Regions from separate parts of the Homo sapiens genome. Here region 2 is linked to region 1. Evidence: fine-mapped expression QTL. A gene starts in region 1. The other region holds a variant in brackets. All regions are shown on one strand. Distances are from middle to middle. Region 1 holds the start of RASGRF2 (Ras protein specific guanine nucleotide releasing factor 2). Region 2 overlaps RASGRF2 (Ras protein specific guanine nucleotide releasing factor 2).

What was found. PIP is the estimated chance that this variant, and not a neighbour inherited with it, causes the effect.
Region 2: its variant is fine-mapped to the expression of RASGRF2 in whole blood (TOPMed, PIP above 0.99).

Annotation. Positions count from the first base shown.
Region 1 is chr5:80,959,049-80,962,080 of GRCh38, reverse strand. It overlaps RASGRF2 (Ras protein specific guanine nucleotide releasing factor 2), which reads right to left and starts at 1,718. Exons shown (of 27, transcript NM_006909.3): 1 at 1,055-1,718. The coding sequence starts at 1,342. It overlaps RASGRF2-AS1 (RASGRF2 antisense RNA 1), which reads left to right and starts at 1,174. Exons shown (of 4, transcript NR_105015.1): 1 at 1,174-1,300. RefSeq lists an enhancer at 894-1,615.
Region 2 is chr5:81,206,213-81,208,978 of GRCh38, reverse strand. It overlaps RASGRF2 (Ras protein specific guanine nucleotide releasing factor 2), which reads right to left. Exons shown (of 27, transcript NM_006909.3): 20 at 2,074-2,134; 21 at 1,630-1,733; 22 at 541-625. LOC124901017 (a long non-coding RNA gene) reads left to right here. Exons shown (of 2, transcript XR_007058842.1): 2 at 1-2,766. Among named protein-coding and RNA genes, the nearest start is that of CKMT2, 26 kb to the left of the region's middle. The variant G/A (reference allele first, on the strand shown) is at 1,324.

The DNA of each region.
Region 1 (3,032 bases):
TCACTCCATTGCTAGCACCTCCCACAGCCTCTGTGGTGTGCGGTAGATGCTGTCTGATCTGAACTCACATGGAAAATTCAGCTGCGAATATTTTTACGCAACAGCAAAAACAATCAGCCTTTTTCATATCAAGGTGGGGATTGAGAAGCTAAATGAGAACATTAGGGGCATAAAATTAGTCTGCTTTAACTTTAATAACCAAACGGTGATTGGAAACATACAAACTTTGTGTTTGCAGGAATGAGGGGCTGGGATCACTAAGACTTAAAGGGTTTTTCTCCCCCACCCCGCGACCATGAGCACACAGCAAAACTAATAAAATTATGACCCAGAATTAAAAGGTCGCATTCATTTTCAAAGCATTCATTTAAAAGTACAGAAGCGTTCTTTAAAAATGCCCACATTTTTAAACATAGCAAGAATGTGGCTACCAAATATTAATCCTGAGGAATATGAATACACATTTACCTTCATAATTACACCCAGCAGGTCAAATGTTAGCAAGGCCAACTGACCGAAATCACAAAGACTGATTGAAAATGACCAACAGAAAGTGTCTGTCCGGCTTGGGAGCCCCGCTTGTTCCCAGCCCAACCAGTGGTCAAACATCTGCAGGCAAAGAAATCTACACGCGCCAGCCGGGTATGGCAGAAATCAAACTTTTCCAAATAAGTTAGTTCCGTCTTGCCAATCTACACCCAACAGGTGTCAATACATGTCACCAGACAAAAATCTGGCGAGCCAGGTCTAGAGAAGCAATAGATGGTTGGCAGAGAAGCTGAAACGACTCGACCTCTACCAGGGTAATGAAAGCAAGTCGGGCCACTATTCTGACTGATCACTTGGCAGTGGGGTGGAGGGGTATGGAGATGGGAGAATCCCTGGATGAAGATCGGAAGGAGCGTGGAGATGTCCCGCCACTGGTGACGCGGGGGGATTTCGGAGCATAGTCCCCGCACTCTTTCACGACCCCCGACCCCTGATCCCCGGATTAGGACGGCAAGGGAGTGCGGCGATCAAGGCTGGGAGACCGCGGAGAGAAGGCGCGCGGTACCTGCTTGTCCAGCGCGTCTCGGACGCCTCCCTGCCCGGCGCCGGCCCTGGGTGGCGCGGGCGTTCGTTCGCAGCTGCAGCCCTCCAGGAGGTACATGCCCGCCGGGCGGCAGCTCTGCTCGCCCTCGAAGTAGAAGAGCACATTCTGGTAGAGGGCGAACCACTTCTCGTGCCAGCGGCTCGCCTCGGCCGTCTTCTTACTCAGGAAGCCGCGCTTGGTGCCCTCCTTGCGCGCCAGAAAGGCCAGGTACAGGGCGTGCCCCTCGTTGTAGCGCACGCTCTTCTGCATGGTGCGGGTGCGGAGGGCTCACGGGTGGCCGCCGGTCTCACCCCTGCCTCGCGGCCATGGCCCAGCTGGCTCCCTCGAGGGCGCGACCGCTCAGGTCCCGGCCGGCGAAGGGCGCCCCCTTTCCCCACGCCGCGCGCAGGGCACCCCGCCCGCTTTCGGGAGGCCGCGGCGCGCGGTGGCAGGGGCGCGGGCTGGGGCCGAGGCACGCTCTCCGCCCTAACCACCACCCTCCCGGCCGAGCCCCCGGAGCCCCCCAAGCCCCCAACGCCCGCGTGGAGCGCGGCCCCGCGAGGGCGCCCGAGCCGGCCGCCGCTTCGCCCAAAGTTGCGGGAGCCGAGCCCCCGCGGCGGGCTGGGGCGGCAGCCGGGGAAGGACTGTCCTCGGGCAACGCGCTCCGGGAGACAGAAGGTAAAACGTCACGTGGGAGCTCAGCTGTAATCGGCTTGGAGACCGATTTAAAGGGCAAAGTCGGCGCGGCGCCGGCGGTGGCGCAGCCCGCTTGCCCCGGCTCGCGTCCCTCCCTCGCCCGCCCCGGCCCGGGCCGCTGCCTCTGCTCGGGCGCCCGCCGGGATGGGGCGGATCAGGGAGGTGGAGGCGCCCGGCCGCACCACACACCCGCTCACACGCGCTCGCACACTCGCGCACAACGCGCGCACACACACACGCACACCCACACACACGCAGACCAGTACATTCACCCAGATCCACAATGCACACACTCAGACGCACAAAAATACACTCACAAATGCACACAAACACAATGCGCGCACATATGCACAAAAACACACGCGCACACACTCATGACACACAAATACACATTCTCACAACGCTCACACTCAACACACAGTCACAACGCACAAATGCATATAGACAAATACACCCACAATGTGCGTTCCCGCGCACAAAAATAAAACCCACATTCAGATACACACTTAAGGAGCTACACACATGCACGCAGTGATATGCTCACTTACACACACATTCACACACAACCCACACATTCACTCAAACCCACATTCAAACATACATTCATACACACATTACACTCATACAGTCACACAAACAGCACACATATACTCACACGTTCACAATCATACAGACTCATAAGCAGATAATCAAACACACACACAGATGAACACACATGTACATTCACAAATTCATCCAAAAATACACACAAAGCACTCACACACGTATTCGCACGAATCCACACACTTTCACAAACCCACTCACACATACACACACACTCACATGCCACATCCATAAGTACGTTCCCATGGCAGTAGGTAGAGTCACAGAGTGGCTTTGCATAGCCCGCATCCTTGGCTTTTCTGCTTGTACCTGCATTGTAGTATTTAAAACTGCCGGTAAAGGTTAAGGAGAGTGGCCCAAGTGTTCCCGGAAAGGCATCAGATGCCGAAGTTCTTTCGGAATGCCTGTTATTTCACAGTGGTAAGATGCTAAATTTTAAGTGCCGAGTTTTCAACCTGGAAAAAAATACCCAAATAAGGGACACTTTGCTGCCCAGGGCAGAATCCAACCCCAAAGGCCAGCTGTCACAGGCTCATCGTTTGTAGGACTGGATTCATTTGATTAACAAATCTGACAGGTACAACCAGAAAACCAAGAGCCACCCCCCCGCCCCAACCCCATGCTGTAAAAATGTAAGTGGAAAAGAAATAATGTAGCCAGC
Region 2 (2,766 bases), 250 kb before region 1:
ACTGGGTACCATCAAAGGTGAACCTTTTATGTCAGGAAGTTAATTGGACATTATTACATTACTGTGAGCTCTTAGAGATTTAAGCTTGTCGTCAATATCCCATCAATTCTGTTTAAAAGTGGGTGGCAGGCCAGGTGCGGTGGCTCACGCCTGTAATCCCAACACTTTGGGAGGCTGAGGCAGGCAGATTGCCTGAGGTCAGGAGTTCGAGACCAGTCTGGCCGACATGGTGAAACCCCTTTACTAAAAATACAAAAATATTAGCCAGGCATGATGGCATGCACCTGTAATCCCAGCTACTCGGGAGGCTGAGGCAGGGGAATTGCTTGAACCAGGGAGGTGGAGGTTGCAGTGAGCTGAGATCACGCCATTGCACTCCAGCCTGGGCGACAGAGCGAGACTCTGTCTCAAAAAAAAAAAAAAAAAAAAAAAAAAAAAAAAAAAGTGGGTGACAGAGTTGCTTTGTTTTAGAGGAGTCTTTAGACCCCAATATCCATCTTCTTGTGACACGCCCACGGTTTTACTGTTACGGTTACTCACGTCATTGAAGTGTTGGCTGGTTTTCATAATGTAAGGAGTTCTTTCGTTTTTATCCAGCTTCATCCACCCCTGCCCAAGAAACTCCCTGGAAGTTCAAAACAAAACACAAAACCAATTAAGTTTTTAAAAATATGGTGGCTATGATCCTGGACAGTTGTCACGAATATTAGAAAAATTCCATTTGACATGGCCTAGAATGGTTCCTGACACCTGCTGCTGCCAGCCTCACAAGTGAATTTTACCTCGGCTGTTGCAGTTTACCTCTCAATGCCAAAAAGGAAGATTCTTCAGCTTCCAGCTTTCTCTTATAAATGTTTGGAACTGTGTCCCTATTAGGATCCTATAAAGCCTTCTCTGAAGTTGGAAAACAAGAACCAACACAAGGGAAATAAAGAGGTTAAGTACTACCTTAGAAATCAAGACTATTTTCCCAGGATTAGCTTTTAAAAACATTAAGCCTTAGCAGAGGGTCCAAAAATTTCATCACTACCAAAAATGTTAGTCAGAAGCAGAATTTTCTCCCTCCACTCTGCGCTGCCTGCCATTCTCCTGGAGGATGCAGATTTCAAAGGCAGGGATTGCGTTTTGTTCTCCCCAGCGCTCAGGAGGGCGCAGGTGGTCAGGGCTGAAAAGCGCTCCTTTTAGGCTTGTACCGCATGTTGCCCTGACCAGGCAGTTCAGCGGGGCAGAAGCTCCACCTGGTCAGATGGGCTGTCTTCAGGGCAGCATTCCTGATCATTCACTTCATTCCTGAGCAGGTCACCAGACACAGCAAGAAACAAG[G/A]GACAAGTGAGATGCAGCATACAGGAATTATTTTGTATAGTCATTAAAAACACTCGAAATTACTCTGATACTCAGGTTGACTAAGTCCCTGGGCAGGGTTCTTTGTCCCTTGCTGTTGTTGGTCCTGCTCCCATCCTGCAGAGTGCTGGACACAGAGGCGTGCCAGTTCCATGGATGGAAACAACTGGTAGATACTCACACAGGAACTGAGGGGACAGACATACACACAACCTGCCTTAGGAATAATGTCAACTTCTAAGACAGCTAGAGCAGCCGAGCCCTGCTGCTGTGGGGGGTGGCACTCACTCGTAGGGAATGCTTCTGAAAATGACATGGTCCAGGAGGGTGATCTGTTCTGCCAGCTCCATGGCCGACAAGGACTCAAAGCATTCGGCCTTCATGCAGTCAGTCTGCAAGAGATGAGGGAGGGAAATGAAACACCCAGGAGAGGGCGCCTGCCATCTCATTGCAGGTCAGTGAGGCAGACAGCTGCATGTGTGGAAGCATGAAGTTCACCACTAAATTCTAACTATGAAAAAAATGGCAGAAAGCTAAAAGTATCAAAGCCAACATGAATATCTTAGACCAACTGCTAGACCCCACACCAAATGTGGTTCATCTCACAGAGCTTCACAGATAGGACAGAGGGCCTAATACTACAACACTCCTTGATCGGTTACAAGCATATTGCTCGCCTTGGAGAGGTAGTTTGCACATAGTTGTGCTAGATAAAAATGTGGTCAGACTTACCATTTGAATTATATCCTCTAATTTTAGGTGGATGTCATCTTGGTCATCTTGTGAAAGGGCCCTGAAAAAGATATCAAATTATCCTCCATGAAAGAAAAAATAGACAACCTAGGAACAAAACTACAAATGCAGTTTGGTTTTCCCTGGATGGGAGGTCTGAGGATTTGGGTCTACAAGGCCATGCAGCACAACCAACTGCTGAGCTGGAGATGAGCAATCCCCAAACAGAAAACATGCTCAAGGCATGAGAGAATCATCAGGACAGCTGATTTAGAACAAAAAGGCAACCTGTTACATACAAGGTTGTAAATGAAACAACCACCGTCACAGTGAGTCTGAGGGTGAGCTGGGTGAGCTCTGAGTTACCATCCATAATGTAAAATGGAGCATCCTCTAATGCTATCAGCCAGTTGGACTCCTAGGCCTGAGTGCCCTCCTCCCCACACCTCTATCCCCTACCGTGGGCTTTCCCTGCCCTCACAGAGGCAGGAGACGCAGGGCCACCCCTTTCTCAAGCTTACGTAGACCAGAAGCACAGGGGGTTCCTATGTGGCAAGACTCTGAACAATGCCAGGCAGGAGCCAGCAGATAGCTTCTTCCCCCTTGCATTCCAGATGGACTTTCCTCAGACACTTTTGGCCCTGAATCTCATACATGTTATTCAGCTCTCAATAAATATCTTTTAAAAAAATA